Homo sapiens: one gene and its partners. The protein of the gene in region 1 purifies or fractionates together with the protein of each later gene. This does not show direct contact. Each region holds a gene or a part of one and is shown in the gene's direction. Other genes may lie near its edges.

The links.
Region 2: the proteins of PAIP1 (region 1) and PABPC1L purify together in Homo sapiens (affinity purification with mass spectrometry; 3 studies listed by BioGRID and IntAct, with this or other methods). This does not show direct contact.
Region 3: the proteins of PAIP1 (region 1) and PAIP2 purify together in Homo sapiens (affinity purification with mass spectrometry; 3 studies listed by BioGRID and IntAct, with this or other methods). This does not show direct contact.

What each region holds. Positions count from the first base shown.
Region 1 is NC_000005.10:43,533,062-43,540,096, reverse strand, and holds part of PAIP1 (polyadenylate-binding protein-interacting protein 1), read left to right. Parts: intron 1-1,061; coding exon 1,062-1,173; intron 1,174-3,152; coding exon 3,153-3,278; intron 3,279-4,456; coding exon 4,457-4,563; intron 4,564-5,126; coding exon 5,127-5,244; intron 5,245-6,304; coding exon 6,305-6,359; intron 6,360-7,035. UniProt on the Homo sapiens protein: Acts as a coactivator in the regulation of translation initiation of poly(A)-containing mRNAs. Its stimulatory activity on translation is mediated via its action on PABPC1. Competes with PAIP2 for binding to PABPC1.
Region 2 is NC_000020.11:44,927,043-44,934,077, forward strand, and holds part of PABPC1L (polyadenylate-binding protein 1-like), read left to right. Parts: intron 1-3,417; coding exon 3,418-3,684; exon of another isoform or gene 3,685-5,299; coding exon 5,300-5,390; exon of another isoform or gene 5,391-6,014; coding exon 6,015-6,143; intron 6,144-7,035. UniProt on the Homo sapiens protein: Poly(A)-binding protein involved in oocyte maturation and early embryo development. It is required for cytosolic mRNA polyadenylation and translational activation of maternally stored mRNA in oocytes.
Region 3 is NC_000005.10:139,365,837-139,370,235, forward strand, and holds the end of PAIP2 (polyadenylate-binding protein-interacting protein 2), read left to right. Parts: intron 1-1,359; exon of another isoform or gene 1,360-1,795; intron 1,796-2,896; coding exon 2,897-2,962; 3' UTR 2,963-3,881; downstream 3,882-4,399. UniProt on the Homo sapiens protein: Acts as a repressor in the regulation of translation initiation of poly(A)-containing mRNAs. Its inhibitory activity on translation is mediated via its action on PABPC1.

The sequences.
Region 1 (7,035 bases):
TGACCCAGAGTCAATTACTGAACAAGAGGTAATTTATTTTTTCTTTGTTAAAAATTGTTTACAAAGTCAACCTAAACTGGCTGCGTGGAAACCATTCAGTACCCATAGCTTTTCCCTTTGTCTTGAAAAGGAAAACTGTCAAAACCAGTTTTGTGAAGCAAGTTACTTTCCCAGAGTTTTCTCACCTTATCAATAAAGATTACAAATACTTAATAACAAAATGATAAACTTTTACAGTCCATTTAAAAAATCTATGTTAGTAACAATATCTGACACTGTAGTTCACTTATGAAGGCAGTGACAGGATTATTGTGCCTAGTTTAGTTACCTTGTAGGAACTATGACTGACAATAAGCTCCAAGAAGAGGATTTCTTCTTTTTCTCCTCTGTGTGAAGCAAATGGGTCAAGTCAGGGGCAAAGAGAGCAAGGAAAAATCAGTTATTTGAAGCTGTCAGTCTCATTGGAAATAGAAAACAAGTCCGGTGCTTTCTATATTGTGGTTTTAATGGGGGAATTTTTTCCTCACATTAGTACTTCTCTGATACGTATAATGGAAATTACAAGAATAATGGACTTAAAAACAATTCATTTTATTTTCAGTTGGAGGTTGTGTGTGTGTGTGTGTGTGTGTGTGTGTGTGTGTATTTAAAGATCCTTTTCAAAGTTGTAGTATTAAAAAAAAAATTACAGAGACAATTTGGGTAAAATCAGTGCTTTCTTAGTAAAAAACCTATAAGACAAGGTGAGGCTCTCTCTCCCCTCTTTGGGCTGCCAGTATGCTGTGAATCAGATTACACCTATGTTGCTTAAACATATTAAATTTGATAAAAATCGTTGAAAATAAAACTATCAGTTTTTTCAAACTGGGAGACTTAGTATGAAAAGATGGTGTATATTCTAGCCTCTTCAATAGTCAGGAACAGTTTCTTTATTGTAGAAAGAGCATTGGGACATTGTCCTTGCCTCTTGCTGTGGACAACCAAACTGACAAATGGTTATTTTGTTTGACTATTTAAAAAGCAAAGCAATGTGAGATTATAAAAGATATGTCTTTAATTAGATGTCGGACTGAATATGAAGTTAAAGATCAAGCTGCAAAAGGGGATGAAGTTACTCGAAAACGATTTCATGCATTTGTACTCTTTCTGGGAGAACTTTATCTTAACCTGGAGGTGAGAAGTTTTTCTTTTGTTAAGTACTAACAAGGCCTGAGAACATAAGTTGATCTCAATGAGGAATTTGTGTTCACATTGTACTTTTACAACATTAAGAGTGAAATGAAAGAGAGAGGAAAGAAAACATGTTTCGGCACCTGCTAGTGTCTGTGGTTTACTGGACCGTCTGTCCATAACATTTACTCATGGACAGAATGTTAGGAAATAATTACTGAGGTAAAAATCTGCGTACTTTTAGGAAGCTGTGGTTTACATGCAAATTTAAGTTCTTGAGATATCAACAGTGATACCTTTTTGAGTTCTTACATCTTATATATTAATACATTTAGTATGTTGACTTTCAGATGGTGGCTCAAAGCAGTTTACTCTGCAGAACTCTGAGTGAAAAGAGAGACTAGAGTCTCTCTAGGCTTTTCACTCTAATTCACCCAAATAGTTTTTTAAAAATATTTTTTTAATTGACAAAAATTATATCTTTATGGTACACAACACTTTGATATATGCATACATCGTAGAATGGCTAAATCAAGCTATTTAACATATGCATTACTTGACATACTTTTTTGTGTTAAGAACACTTAAAATTTTTAGCAGTTTTCATGTATACAATATATTGTTAACTATAGTCATCATGGTGTACAAGAGATCTCTTGAACTTATTCCCCCTAAATGAAATTCTGTGTCCTTTGACCAACATCTCCCCAATACCCCAACCCCTAAGAATAGTTCTTTTTTGTCCTATTTTATATATTAATCTTCCACATAAAAATGCATTTGTACAAAGTCTACAGCTAAACGTATTTATAAATTTGGGTGGTATACTTAAGTATATGCTTGTTAGTAGGCAATAGAAGTGCTGGATTCAGCACGGCATTATTACTGTGTAATAGATTTGCTTGATTTTTTTTTTTTTTTTTTTTTTTTGGGTGGGGACAGTCTCGCTCTGTCACCCAGGCTGGAGTGCAGTGACGTGATCTCGGCTCACTACAACCTCCGCCTCCCGGGTTCAAGCGATTCTCCTGCTTCAGCCTTCTGAGCAGCTGGGATTACAGGCACGTACCACTATGCCTGGCTAATGTTTATATTTTTAGCAGAGATGGGGTTTCACCATGTTGGCCACGCTGGTCTCAAACTCCTGACCTCAGGTGCTACCCGCCTCAGCCTCCCAGAGTGCTGGGATTACAGGCATGAGCCACCATGCCCAGCCTCTGCTTGATTTTTTAAATTAGTGAATATCAGATATAAGCTTATACCTTCTTACACCCTGATTTGAGAACTTAAGATCGTAAACGCCATAATATCAGAAACATCATAAGACAATGTGAATCTATCAAATGTGCATCTCAGTCATTGTATCTAAAAGGTCTATGTCCAGTCCAGAGCCTAACTTACTATGCCTTTTTACCACAGGTAGACTTAGTTTTTTGAAAAATCTTATGCCATGTTCTTTTTCAGTCTAATTTTTGTTTAAGCCAAAATATGGACAGCAATCTAAAATAAATACTGTTGAGCATTTTCTATATGGAGATAATGATGCTAGGTCAATGGGGGATGTAAAGATAAGGCTTAGTTCCTGCACCTAAAATTCTTCTACACAGTGATATAAGATACATATACCACTCTGATGCAAAATACCATATTTTAAAATATTTTAAAAGCAGAATAAAATGCTGTGTGTTCAAAAAAAAGTGGTAGTTGAACAAACTAAAGAAAGCTTTATGAAGTAGTAACATCAAAGTGGGCTTAAATTATGCTGACTCTGGTATTAAATTTTACCCATAGCTTACCAGTTTTATTAGAGGTCTTAGTTACATATAAAGTAATTCTAACAAATTCTGTGAAGATATCAGAGTGTGTTCCTGTGACTTTTGTGATTTAGCTAAAATGCTTATTTTGCCAACACCTTGTTAGTTCATTTATGTATCTGTATTATATTTTGGCATCATTCCTTTTGTTCTTTTTTTTGGTCCCGAAAGATCAAGGGAACAAATGGACAGGTTACAAGAGCAGATATTCTTCAGGTTGGTCTTCGAGAATTGCTGAATGCCCTGTTTTCTAATCCTATGGATGACAATTTAATTTGTGCAGTAAAATTGTTAAAGGTAGGTTTTTTTTTTTAATTTAACTAATTTACGTATTTACTTATGATTTAGAGGAAGGTTAGTCTATATAGTATACAGATGAATTCAAGATTTATCACTTTAAGGTAAATATTGACATTTTACTTTTTTCTCGAATATTTTGGAAAAGCGAGATATACTTATTGTTTAATATATGAAGCAAGTTCAGAAGTGAAAAATGGAAGTCCTTTACGCCATTTCCATTTGCAAATTCTGTCTTCTTCCCTTCTTATCTCTGTATATGTGCTCTTATTAAATAAGATCTTACTCTGTTCTGGCTTTTTGTTTTTGTTTTTGCCACCTAATGAAACATCTTAGATTTTTCCATGGCACAGAGATTTACCTCTTTTATTGAATAACTTCCTAGTATTCTGTCATATGCATATGCATTGTTTATCCATTCCGTAACATCTATCAATGTTTACTAATGAATATTTGGATTATCTTCAGTTTAGCCATGGCAGCATTGCTTGTAATCTTTCCTCTTGTCATATATATGTGCAGATACTTTTGTAGGTTAAATTCTTAAACACGGATTTGGTGGGTGGACGAGCATATGTATTTTACGACAAGTAATGGCTAATTTGCCTTCCAAATGCTGAACCAGAGTATAGCCCCATCAGCAGAATGAGTACATCTCTTCCTACATCCTTATAGTGATGGATATAATCAATCTTGGTTTTTGTTTTGTCAGATGATTTTAAGCATTTCTTCATGTTTATTAGCCATTTGTTTATTATTTCCTATAAATTACCTGTTTAAATCCTTAACTGATTTATTTCCTGATGAAATGCATGTTTGTGTTTTTTTTTTTTATTCAAAGCTTCTATACTTGTTGCTTGCTGTATATTTCAAAAAAAGTGACATGTTCATTAAAATCTAATAGCCTATCTTAGTCATACAGGGAATATAACAGTCGTTGACATAAAACCCATGATTAAAGTTCTGCTATTGTTTTTTTTGTTTTAGTTTCTCTCAGTCAAGAGAAATATAGAGGGCGTAGAGATCACTGAATATTAGATGGTAGACAGAATAATTAGGAATATTAAACTTGCTAAATTCATCTTGTTTAGAGAATGCTTGAACTGTTACTGGTATCTTTTTAGAATTTCTATAATACACTATTGAATTTCTTATTTTACTGACACCTGCTTTTTTAGTTGACAGGATCAGTTTTGGAAGATGCTTGGAAGGAAAAAGGAAAGATGGATATGGAAGAAATTATTCAGAGAATTGAAAACGTTGTCCTAGATGCAAACTGCAGTAGGTAGGAAAAGAAGTAATGTAAATAGCCAGTGCATCTCAATTTCTTGCTTTTTCTTTGGAGATTGTTTTTTAATTTGCTATACTTCAGCAGGGTAAGTTGATGGCTAACGGATATACAAAAATGCTTTTCTTTAAAGGAATAATATTTTACCTATAGTTTCTGCTCACTAGACATTTTTGTGATAGACGTGTCAGATATTTTTGCTCAATTACATTTAGAAATTGAAAAAGCTAATTTTCTTAAGATATGAATTAAATGAAAAACAAAATCCAAATATTAACTGTCCAACAAATAAAAGTACTACTGTAAGTATAGTAGGACACATAAAAATGTTTGAAGGATAGCCACTGCCTTTAAGGTCCATATAGTCATAGTTACGTGGAACATAATTCAAGGCTATTTTTTTTTTAAATGAATTTATGTCATATAGGAAACGTCTAGAAAGTCAAGGCATCAGATGTACCTGTTAAATTAAGGAAATAAAGTTTTGGGAATCTGAGATATTTTAGGGTCTGACAGCCCTTATGGTGGATACACTAACTCATTTTCAACTTTGTCTACAGAGATGTAAAACAGATGCTCTTGAAGCTTGTAGAACTCCGGTCAAGTAACTGGGGCAGAGTCCATGCAACTTCAACATATAGAGAAGCAACACCAGAAAATGATCCTAACTACTTTATGGTATGCCAGTGTTTATATTTTAAGTTTTACTTATTGCTTGAATTCCGTTTTGGAAATTAGAAGAGCTACATAAAGCTGTTCTCAGAATTCAGTGCCTAATAACTGTCTTCACTGGCTTTGAGTGACATGGCAGCCATCAGACTGGGTAAAAAAGAAAAGAGACCTGGAATTCTCCAGTGAAAGGGTGGACTAGAGAAAGATATATCCAATGGCAAGAGAGATTGACAAGGCTTGGACTTAAGTGAGCACAGGGATGCCAGGAAGCAGCTTTTCCAGAGAATTTATAACCAAGGACCTGCATCTCAGACTTTTACTTTGCATGTTGTAGTAACGAAAAATAAAATAAAATTGGTTGGCTGGGCGTAGTGGCTCACACCTGTAATCCCAGCGCTTTGGGAGGCCAAGGTGGGCAGATCACCTGAGGTCAGGAGTTCAAGACCAGCCTGACCAACGTGGAGAAACCCCGTCTCTACTAAAACTACAAAGTCAGCTGGGCGTGGCAGTACTTGCCTGTAATCCCAGCTACTCGGGAGGCTGAGGCAGGAGAATTGCTTGAAGCCTGGAGGCAGAGGTTGTGGTGAGCTGAAATCACGCCATTGCACTCCAGCCCAGGCAACAAGAGCACAACTCTGTCTCAGGGAAAAAAAAAAAATGGCTACTAGGCCAGTGATGCCCTGAAGCTCCTGACATGAACAAACATAAAGCAGCTGTGGAGAAATGTTCCTCCAGCCCTGGTCCTGGAAATTCTTAAAAGAAATGGTGGGGTTGGAAACCACAGCTAAAAATGCACTGACACTAAATGACAATGCACAACAGAACAGTTCACTGAAAGACAATAGACAGCACCGTTAGAACCACAAGAACTTGAGATAATGGCATGGAAATCTGAAAACCATAGACTTTCTCAGTGAAGTGAAAATGGCTACCAGGAAGTTAGGTTCCTTTGCTTGTTCTTGCATTATTAGGTGCAGACGGGTGACATCAGCCATGCTTCATTATTGTACTTACAAAAATCAATTCTGAAATGATTACATATTTTTATCACTTTGATTCATCCTAGAATGAACCAACATTTTATACATCTGATGGTGTTCCTTTCACTGCAGCTGATCCAGGTATGTTGTCTCACAGTCATTCCCTCCTCCCAGTTGTTTGGTAAAGTAGTAAATTTACAGAAAACCACATCCTCACCAGCACAAGATTGTAACTTTTTGATGTCTTCACATCATTCTAAAATACCAGTGTAATGGTTTGTCTAATATAGAATGCTCTTCATAGTGACCACTTGAAACATTTCAAATGAAAGTATGATTCCACATATAATGTCTTGTCACTTAACAACAGAGGATGGGAAGAATTCTCAATTAAATGCAACTATTTTAATTTTATATTTCCTCTAACTTTTTTATAATCTTAAATTTTCAGGTGATTAGAATGGAGGGGAAAGACGATTCTAGTTCACTGCATAGTCAGCAACATATATTAATATGGGTTAATACTTTACACGAAGAATTACACATTTCATTCATACTTGGTGTGTGACAGTTAATTAAAATCCAAATCTCTGCACATTTCCTCTTCCAGAAGAGGACCATTTATAGAAAGATTGCCTTAATTGTATTAGATGGAACTGTAGAGTGAGGAAGAGAAATTTTTCCCTTTGGTACAAACTGCAACCAGCTTATGGTTGGAATTTTTCCATTTGTTTCCTCTGGATTCCAAGCATTGACTGTCCTGTGTCTCTAGCACAGAGAAGTTTTTTTAGGGCAAGGAAGTAGAATTAAGTTACAC
Region 2 (7,035 bases), on another chromosome or scaffold:
TTTAAAAAAAAATTTTTTTTTGGTAGAAATTGGGAGTCTTGCTGTGTTGTCCAGGCTTGTCTTGAACTCCTGGGCTCAAGCAGTCCTCCTACCTCAGCCTCCCAAAGTGCTGGGATTATAGGCATGAGCCACTGCATCTGGCCTGTATTTTGTTTTATATAAAAATAATTATGAAAATTAAAGGAATTAATGGATATAAATACTTATACCACTATCAAGTTCATGGTAAGCTCTGCATAAGTGTTAGCTTTGCTAAATTTTATCATTATTAACTACCGACTGCCAGAAGTTCTTAACAATATATATATATTTTTTTTTTTTTGAGATGGAGTTTTGCTCTTGTTGCCCAGGCTAGAGTGCAATGGTGCAATCTTAGCTCACTGTAACCTTTGCCTCCTGGGTTCAAGTGATTCTCCTGCTTCAGCCTCCTGAGTAGCTGGGATTACAGGCGCCTCTCACCATGCCCAGCTAATTTTTTGTATTTTTAGTAGAGATGGGGTGTCACTATTTTGGCCAGGCTGGTCTCGAACTTCTGACCTCAGGTGATCCACCTGCCTCAGCCTCCCAAAGTGCTAGGATTACAGGCGTGAGCCACTGTGCCCGGCCCTTTGGCTATCTGATGAAGCCTGTGGAACCCTTCTAAGAATATTTTTTAAAAACTTTTTTGAGACAGAGTCTCGCTCTATCACCCAGGCTGGAATGCAGTGGTGCCATCACAGCTCACTGCAGCCTCCAACTCCTGGCCTCAAGTGATCTCCTGTCTCAGCCTCCCAAGTAGCTGAGACTATAGGAGCACCACTATGCCTGGATAATTATTTTTTATATTACCCAGGCTGGTCTCAAACCCCTGGGCTCAAGCAATTCTTCCGCCTCTGCTTCCCAAAAATAGGCATGAGCCACCAAACCTGGCCCTAAGAATATTTTTAAATGCATAAAATAAGATTCTTAGGTGTACAAAAAAATCATACTGAAAAAATATAATGGTCAAAATACTAAAGTGAAAGCAGTATGTGCTTCTTTTATTATTTTTATTTTTATTTTTTTGAGACGAAGTCCCACTCTGTCGCCCAGACTGGAGCGCAGTGGCATGATCTTGGCTCACTACAACCTCTGCCTCCCAGGTTCAAGAACCTGGGTTCTGCCTCAACCTCCTGGGAAGCTGAGATTACAGGCACCCGCCACCATAACCAGCTAATTTTTGTATATTTTTAGTAGAGATGGGGTTTCACCATGTTGGCCAGGCTGGTCTCGAACTCCTGACCTCAGGTGATCTGCCCACCTTGGCCTCCCAAAGTGCTGGGATTACAGGCATAAGCCATTGCGCTCGGCTGAGATTAGCAATAATTAATGTGATATGAAAATATTTTCTTTTTCTTCATGACAAATTCATGGCTAATACTGCCAGGATTTTTTTGTTGTTGCCCATATTCATAATAGAAGGAAATGCTAATATGAAAATAAAGATGTCACTTTTTCCCCAATCCATGCAATTTCCCCCTAAATTGTATCCATGACCTACCTGAGGGGGATCCATGGACTCTCAGGTTAAGACCCCTCTACTGAAGGGTAGCAGAGTACAGTTTCAAAATTACTGATTAAGAGCGTGGGCTCACCAGGAGTTCAAGCCCAGCCGGGGCAACAGGATGAGACCTCATCTTTACAAAAAATGAACAAAATTAGGCATGGTGGTGCTTGTCTGCAGTCCCAGCTACTTGGGAGACTGAGTTGAGAGGATCACTTGAGGCTGAGAGGTTGAGGGTGCAGTTGAGCTGAGATTGCACCACTGCACTCCAGCCTGAGTGACAGAGTGAGATCCTGACTCAAAAAAAAAAAAAAAAAAAAAGAAAAAAAAAAAGGAAAAAAAGAAGATTTTAAAAATAACTCTAGTCCTTATGGGCTGTATGAGCCAGGCCGGTGTCTTCACCCTAAAAAAAGGTTAAAAACCCAGGGCCAGGTGTGGTGGCTCCTGCCTGTAATCCCTGCACCTTGGGAGACCTAGGTAGGAGGATCTCTTGAGACCAGCCTGGGCAACATAGTGATTGCTGATCTCTACAAACTTAAAAAAAAAAATTAGCTGGGTGTGGTGGCATGTACCTATAGCCCTAACTACTTGAGAGGCTGAGGCAGGAGGATCCCTGGAGCCCGGGAGTTTGAGGCTGCAGTGAGCTATGATCATACCACTGCACTCCAGCCTGGATGACAGAGTGAGACCCCATCTCTTTAAAAAACAAACAAATAAACAAAAAGACAAACCCTAAATGCCATGTGGGTTGGATCCTGGAAGAGAAAAAGAATATTAGGGGAAAAAAGAGTGAAATTCCAGTGAAGTCTGGAGTTCAGTTAATAGCATTGTAGTTAATAGGAGCTAATGGTATAAAATAGTTAATAGCATTGCACCAGTGTTAATTTTGTAGTTTTGAAAAATGTACCATGTTCACATTGGGGGAAACTGGGTGAAAGATATACAGCAGGCCAGGCATGGTGGCTCACGCCTGTAATCCCAGCACTTTGGGAGGCTGAGGCAGGCAGATCACTTGAGGTCAGGAGTTTGAGACCAGCCTGGCCAACATGGTGAAACCCTCTCTCTACTGAAAATACAAAAATTAGCCAGGTGTGGTGGCACACGCCTGTAGTCCCATCTACCCAGGAGGCTAAGGCAGGAGAATTGCTTGAACCCGGGAGGCTGAGGTTGCAGTTAGCCGAGATCGTGCCACTCCACTCTAGCCTGAGTGACAGAGTGAAACTATGTCTCAAAAAAAAAAAAAAAGATATATAGCAACCCTCTGTACTGTTTTTGTAACTTTTTCTGTAAATCTAAAGTTACTCCAAAGTAAAAAGGTTATTTTAACAAAAAGGCTAAGAACCTCTTCCCCAAATTCCTAAAGAACTTGGCTTGGTACTTAGCAGAGGCGATAGAAGCTTACCAGAACAATGTGTTGGGTTGAGTCCTGGCTAACGTATGAACCACAGGCTGAGTGACCCCAGACAAGTCACTCTTTCGAGTCTCTCTTATCCCGGCTGTAAAGTGGGAGCCGCGATGCCTCCCGCATCGGGAGGTTGTACATGTGAGGTGTGAAGACATGTAAAGTATCTGGCATGCAGCAGGCCTCATAGATGGGGGTGCGTGCTGCATCCCTCAAACAGCTCAGTAAACAGGGTGCACGCTACATCCCTCCATCACTCCTCAGTAAATGGGGGTGCACGCTACATCCCTCCATCACAGCTTGCTAAACGGGGGTGCACACTACATCCCTCGAACACAGCTTAGTAAACAGGGGTGCACGCTACATCCCTCCATCACAGCTTTCTCGCGGGCCTGCCCAGTGCTGGGCTTAGCCCATGGGGAGGAGGGAGGCAGCGCAGCCCCAGGAGCCTTCCTTCCCCACCCCAGCAGCTCTTGTCTTGTCTTGCTTTTAGGTGATGACAGAGGGTGGCCACAGCAAGGGGTTTGGCTTTGTGTGTTTTTCCTCCCCAGAAGAGGCGACAAAGGCCGTGACAGAGATGAACGGGCGCATCGTGGGCACCAAGCCACTCTACGTGGCACTGGCCCAGCGCAAAGAGGAGCGGAAGGCCATCTTGACCAACCAGTACATGCAGCGCCTCTCCACCATGCGGACCCTGAGCAACCCCCTCCTGGGCTCCTTTCAGCAGCCCTCCAGCTACTTCCTGCCTGCCATGCCCCAGGTGACGGCCTGCCCGCAACTCCCACCGCAGCCTTCCCCCCTGCCCCAGCAAGGCAGAGCATGAAGACTAGAGTTCTAGGGAAATGGAGGTTTCTAACTTGCTTCTGCCGAGGACTCATTAGGAAGTCTTTGTTTCCCTCTCTATAAAAGGGAGAGATAGTGTTAGTCAAATGGCATTTCCCAGTGAGAGAAGCTCGTGAATGTTGTGCTGAAAAAGACTCTTAATGATCCAGCAAGTTTGGGAAATGCTGCGTTAAGCAAGACCTACATTTTTCCTTCCTCCCTTCCTTCCCTTCCCTCCCTTCCCTCCCTTCCCTCCCTTCCCTTCCCTTCCCTTCCCTCCCTCCCTCCCTCCCTCCCTCCCTTCCTTCCTTCCTTCCTTCGTGGGGTCTCCATGTCACCCAGGCTGGTGAGCAATGGCGTGATCATGGCTCCTTCCTTCTTCCCTCCCTTCCTCCCTTCCTCCCTTCCTTCACGGGGTCTCCATGTCACCCAGGCTGGAGAGCAATGGCATGATCATGGCTCACTGCAGCCTTGAATTCCTGGGCTTGAGTGATCCTCCCACTGTAGCCTCCTGAGTAGGTGGGACTACAGGTGTGTGCCACCATGCCCAGCTAATTTTTTTGTTTATTTTAAAGAAGGGGTCTCGCCATGTTGCCCAGGCTGGTCTCAAACTCCTGGGCTCAAGCAATTCTCCTGCCTTGGCCTCCCAAAGTGCTGGCATTACAGGAGTAAGCCACCGTCCCCCGCCCTACATTTTTTTAAAAATTAAATTTTTATTTTTTTGGAGACAGAGTCTTGCTCTGTTGCCCAGAATGGAGTGCAGTGACACCATCTTGGCTCGCTGCAAACTCTTCCTCCTGGGTTCAAGTGATTCTTGTGCCTCAGCCTCCCGGGTAGCTGGGATTACAGGTGCGTGCCACCACACTCAGCTAATTTTTTGTATTTTTAGTAGAGACGGGGTTTCACCATGTTGGCCAGGCTGGTCTTGAACTCCTGACCTCAAGTGATGTGCCCTCCTTGACCTCCTAAAGTGCTGGGATTACAGGCATGAGCCACCATGATCGGCCCTAAATTTCTTTACTATCTACACTATTCTACCCTAAGATGCCAATGTCTACTGAGACTCTCCAAAACAGGCACAGATTATCCAGCATTTCCCCAGCTTAGATGGTCATTTTTTTGTGGGATGCCTGTTAACATCTCCCCTGGATGTTAATGTTCTGAGGAGCATGGTTTGGGAAAGGACCTCGTGGGACTTACAGGAAGTAGAAAGATGTCACCCATTAAAGGCCACCACGGTAAGAACATTCCTCTCCTTTTAGCAGTTGCTTAAGCTGCACAAGTTGGAGTAAGATGTCACCCTTTTTATCCAGGTCATTGGGTTAGCTGACAGGGAGCCAAGATTGAAATCTAAGATCTTTGCCCTGCAGGATTCAGGGCTAATGGACATCCTGAGATGGGAGGAAGGAGCTTTCATTACAGCCTTGTGGGTCTTGACTCACCAGTCCCTGCAGGAGCCAGTGGAGTTCCTGCCATGGTGTCCCTGAGGAGGTGTAGCTTCTCACCTACCCTGCCGCCAAGCCCCTCAGTCTGGGTCTTCTTTTCCCATGCAGCCTCCAGCCCAGGCTGCATACTATGGCTGTGGCCCAGTGACACCCACCCAGCCTGCCCCCAGGTGGACATCCCAGCCACCTAGACCTTCCTGTGAGTGACCCAGCCCCTTCCACTCTCAGACTGGCCTATTGGTGTGGGCCCCGTGAGGCAGTCATAACACAGGGATGAAACCTGGCTCTGCCACTTCCCAAGGTGGGTGACTTCACTTCTCTGAGCCTCAGTTTCCTCTTCTGAGCATGGGCCTGAATGAGACGTGTGTAAAGTACCAAGCACAGTGGTGAGCCAATGGAAGACACGCAGCTAGCCACCAGCAGTCATCACCAAAGATGCCTCTGATTTGTGACTCTGAAAATTCTTGCAAAGCTGAGAAGGTGAAATTCCTCTGGCTATATTGTTGACCAAAGGCCCTCCTCTGTAAGAGTGAATTGCACGCTCACTTGAAACTATCTTGAGGGACTAAGGTGTACAATCCTGGTGCTTATGCAGTTTGGGGCTCTAGGTAGACACGAGCTGGCTTTGAAATTGTAGATTCCTACACTCCCCCTTTCTGGAGTTCTGGGTCTAAGTGAATTGACTCCTATTTCTGTTGTGAATGTTGTAGTTTCCCTTCCCATTCTCTTGGTGGCCCTGGAAGCTTCTAGGCACAGTGTGCCACCCTGATTATTCCCACCACTCCATCCAACTTTTCTCTCTCTGTGGTGTCTGCACCACAAGCTGCCTACCCTCCAGGTGCCTCAATGGTCCGGCCACCAGTTGTGCCTCGGCGCCCCCCGGCCCACATCAGCAGTGTCAGGCAGGCCTCCACCCAGGTGCCACGCACGGTGCCTCATACCCAGAGAGTAGGTGAGTGTGGGTAGGGCCAAGGGGAATGGGGGTGGGGCAAAGTTGGCACTAGGAGTCAGGACCAGCCTCCATGGTGACCTTGCCATATGCCCTCTCGGTGAGCAAAGCTGACTTTGGAGACTGTAGCGTGGTAGTTAGCTTGGCCTCCAGTTCCTGGGACCAACTGACTATGAGGCCCTTGCTGACTACTATATCTGTCACCTAATCTTTAAAATGGGGACAAAAATAGTACCCCCATTTTATTGTAGAGAATTTAAATGTTTTTTTTTTTCTTTTTGAGGCAGAATTTCATTCTTGTTGCCCAGGCTGGAGTGCAATGGCATGATCTCTGCTCACTGCAACCTCCGCCTCCCAGGTTCAAGCGATTGTCCTGCCTCAGCTTCCCAAGTAGCTGGGATTGTAGGCATGCGCCACCATGCCTGGGTAATTTTGTGTTTTTAGTAGAGACGGGGTTTCTCCATGTTGGTCAGGTTGGTCTTGAACTCCTGATCTCAGGTGATCCGCCCACCTCAGCCTCCCAAAGTGCTGAGATTACAGGCATGAGCCACTGTGCCCAGCCTTAATTTTTTTTTTTTTTTTTTTTGAGATCGAGTCTTGCTCTGTCGCCCAGGCTGGAGAGTAATGGTGTGATCTCGGCTCACTGCAACCTCTGCCTCCGGGGTTCTAAGCGATTCTCCTGCCTCAGCCTCCTGAGTAGCTGGGATTACAGGCATGCGCCACCATACTTGGCTAATTTTTGTATTTTTAGTAGGGACAGGGTTTCACCATGTTGGCCAGGCTGGTCTCGAACTCCTGACCTTAGGTGATCCACCAGCCTCGGCCTCCCAAAGTGCTGGGATTACAGGCATGAGCCACCATGCCCGGCTTGTTGTTGAGGATCAATGAGATCATG
Region 3 (4,399 bases), about 96 Mb from region 1:
TTAAAAACACACACAATATTATCATGTTACTTGCCTATACAGAAGTAGCTTGATGGAGAAGTTTTGCTCTTTAATCTTGTCTTGGCTGGGTGCAGTGGCTCATGCCTGTAATCCCAACACTTTGGGACGCCGAGGCACGCGGATCACGAGGTCAAGAGTTCGAGACCAGCCTGACCAACATGGTGAAACCCCGTCTCTACTAAAAGTATACAGAAAATTAGCTGGTTGTGGTGGTGCGTGCCTGTAATCCCAGCTACCTGGGAGGCTAAGGCAGGAGAATCGCATGAATCTGGGAGGTGGAGGTTGTGGTGAACCAAGATGGTGTCGTTGCACTCTAGCCTGGGCGACAGAGTGAGACTCCACCTCAAAAAAAAAAAAAAAAAAAAAAGCGGGGTGGGGGGAATTGTGATAACTAAACATCAGCACTAGAGTGAGAACTGGCTGGGTCCACTGAACTAATCTGTACACCATGATTACCTATGAAGCATTAAATACAAAAATCAGTTCTTTAGTTACATCCCAACATGCTCAGTTGTCTGGGCATGTTAATTTTTTAAAAGTACTACAGAGGATTTATTATACAGCCAACTTGCCTGAGTCGGTCATTTGGAAACCATTCTTCTAAAGGATGGTGTAGAGAGCACTGAAGTTTACATTGTGGTATATAGCCTTTGTTGCAGTAAGTGATGGTAACCCATTTGAGCAGCTGTATGATCTGAATAGTCTGGAGGGGGGTATGATTACTTACGGCTACATTAGTCACCATAAATAATCCAGTTGCCCTGCAGAGTAACACTCTTGGCTGAGCATAATGTATAACTTTAATCTGGACCCAGTATAATTCCATAGTACAGAAGCTGGTTTGTTCTTCTCAGTCTATTTGATATTACTTTGTTTCATTCTTCTGTTGCTCCCAGAAAATTGTTCATTTAAGAACACTGTGCCTGGATGTGGTGGCTCATGCTTGTAATCCCAGCACTTTGGGAGGCCAAAGTGGGAAGATTACTTTGGCCCAGGAGTTCGAGACCAGCCTGGGCAACAAAGGGAGACCCTGTTTCTACAAAAAGTTTAAAGTTAGCTGGGTGTGGTGGCACAGGCCTGTGGTCCCAGGTACTTGGGAGGCAGAGGCCAGAGGATCACTTGAGCCCAGGAGGCCGATGCTGCAGTGAGCTGTGATTGTTCCGCTGCCCTCCAGTCTAAGCAACAGAGCGAGTCCATGTCTCAAAAAAAGAGAAAAGGAATGCTGCTTTTTTTTCTTAAACTTCACACTTTTAAAATGTAGATACATTATTTCCCTTGGGGGAAGGGAGAATATATCCTGTCCAAAGAAACTGCTATGTATAAATTACGAAACTAAAATTATTTCTTCAACATGATGTTTAATATTATGCATTAGTCTTGAAGTGATGTAGGGTCAAATTCAATGTAAAAGCCTTGCAGCATACCTACATTTCAGGCCCTGGAACCTGCCCTCATTTCTTTTTATTTTTTTCAACTTGCAGTCTAAAATATCACAGAGGAAAATTTCTAGCTGTTCTTCCTAGATGCTGACAAGTCTACTTAGGAGAGTAAAGATTTAGAGACATAGCATAACATTGGTACAAGTCTCTAAGACTCAGACTTTGGCCCATTCCCCCCCACCCCTTTTTTTTTAACTGATGCAAAAATTTGAATCCCAGAGAAAGGTGACTTATCTGAGTTTACACAGAAGTTAGTTAGGGGCAGGGCTGGGATTTCAGGCTTAGGTCTTCTGGTTCCCCATGTAGTTTTCTTTTCCTGTTATATACCATGCTTCCTGTGGGAATTAGAAGATGGCAATTGTAGAAAAACAACTCCACATTTTTAGTGAGGATTCTAAAGTAAAATCAGCAATTCCCCAGTTACTTTAATCATAATTTCAACACTTGTTTAACATGGTTCCTTGGTATTTAGTGTTTAAAGAAAGCTACATACCATAGTTCGATTAACAGAATTCCTTGTTCCGTGCTATTCCTTTAACTTATGTGAAGTTACTGGATTTCTGGTTACACTTAAGCAAACTGAATTTCAATTCCTATTTTCTCTTTAGAAAATTGATGTAATTTAGGCCGGGTGCAGTGGCTCACGCCTGTAGTCCCAGCATTTTAGGAGGCCGAGGCAGGCAGATCACGAGGTCAGATCAACACCATCCTGGCTAACATGGTGAAACCCCTTCTCTACTAAAAATACGAAAAATTAGGCCGGGCGCGGTGGCTTACGCCTGTAATCCCAGCACTTTGGGAGGCCAAGGCGGGCGGATCACGAGGTCAGGAGATCGAGACCATCCTGGCTAACATGGTGAAACCCCGTCTTTACTAAAAATACAACAAAAAATTAGCTGGGCGTGGCGGTGGGCGCCTGTAGTCCCAGCTACTCAGGAGGATGAGAGACAGGAGAATGGTGTGAACCCGGGAGGCGGAGCTTGCAGTGAGCTGAGATCGCGCCACTGCACTGCAGCCTGGGTGACAGAGTGAGACTCCGTCTCATAAAAAAAAAACTAAATAAATAAATAAAAATACAAAAAATTAGTTGGGTGTGGTGGCACGCGCCTGTAGTCCCAGCTACTCAGGAGGCTGAGGCAGGAGAATCGCTTGAACCCAGGTGGCAGAGGTTGCAGTAAGCCTAGATTGTGCCACTGCACTCCAGCCTGGGCGACAGAGCAAGACTCCGTCACAAAAAAAGAAAAGAAAAAGTTGATGTAATTTAATATGATATATAGCTTACATCTGGTTCTTCCTTTTTGGGGTTTAGTATAGTCTTACAGACTGAGTTCTTTTGTCTTTTTTTTTTTGGAAGATGTTTTTGCATGAGGATCTAGATTGAATTAGTACCTGAAACTGTGTTAATGAACTTGCTTTTTTATGTACTTATTTTCCAGGTCAAGAGCAATCTGAATCCAAATGCAAAGGAGTTTGTTCCTGGGGTGAAGTACGGAAATATTTGAGTAGACGGGGCCCTCTTTTGGTGGATGTAGCACAATTTCCACACTGTGAAGGCAGTATTAGAAGACTTAATTGTAAAAGCTCTCTTGTCACTGTGTTACACTTATGCATTGCCAAAGTTTTTGTTAGTCTTGCATGCTTAATAAAAGTGCTGAGACTGTTACTAAGTAAAAAGCTGTCAAACATTTACTGAAAATAGAATTGGCCCCATGGCTTGATGTGAAGACAGCAAGGAAAGAAGCACCAGTCAAGTTGTGAACAAGCACCAAATTAAAAGACCTAAACCTTACCAAATTGTCTTTTTTTGAGGCTAATCTATCACTTGTTAATGTCTAAACTTTAAAATCAGTACATTTAATTTGAGTTCCAACTGTTAAGCATATTTCTCAGACTTAAATTTGATTATGTCCCCATCAAAAAGAATCTCCATTTTCTGAAGGTCTGTTAGTTAATTTGAGATAATTTGTTAAAGGCAAGTATGTCATATTACTGAGGCTACAAGTTAGTCAGCAGATGAGTGCCAGTCCAGCCTTTTCTGGTATGTTATTGTTAGAAATATTGAGTTCTAATGTTACATCTGAGGAAGTATGTAATTTGAGAATTGTAACTTCTAAGGGATTCACTGCATCATAGCTATGCCTGTATGGAGTCTAACATATGACCAATACCAACCCATAATCCAGCTGAACAAAGATACTGTAACATGATTTGAGTGGTGCTTTTCCTTGCTTTGTTAACCATCACGAGAGTCTGCAGCACAACTTTTAACAAAGCTAGAACAGTTTTGGCTTCTTAAACTTCATATTTGGGTAGGTTAAGCTGCCATACGTGTTCAGTGTGAATAGTGTTTAAGTTGAAAATATTGTAAAAAAATTATATTTTTTCAAAAATATTTAAAAAAATAAATAATAGTAGAACTGAGCAGATGGTTGTGTTTATTGGTGCTGGAATGTACTGTAGTGGTGTTACTCACTTGAGTATGGGCCCAGTGCCTCAGGACAATCTTGCTGGCAAAATGTGCTAAGCTTTCAGGCTTTGTTAGATTCTAACAGGTATGTTGCCATGCAAGTACCTTTCCAGAATATAGCAGTAGAATAACTCCATTGCCCATCCTTGCTTCTTAATCACCTCAGACTTCAGTGTCAGGGGAATCCTAGATAGTCATGTAAGAAACTTTATGGCTGACCAATATGATGGTGACCTTACTCTAATAGAACCTCCATTGTTTTTTGTTCTTCACAAGGGCTTTTTTTGAGCTTATTAGGTTGAAAAAGATTAAGAGAGCCATATAGTCAGTTCTGACTCACATTCTTCTGGCAGTGGGTATGGGGGAGGTTCTTTGGTGTGGGCACCTGTACCCCAGTGTGTGGTTGGTTGGTTGGTTGGTTTTTGGAGACGGAGTCCTGCTCTGTTGCCCAGGCTGAAGTACAGTGGCACGA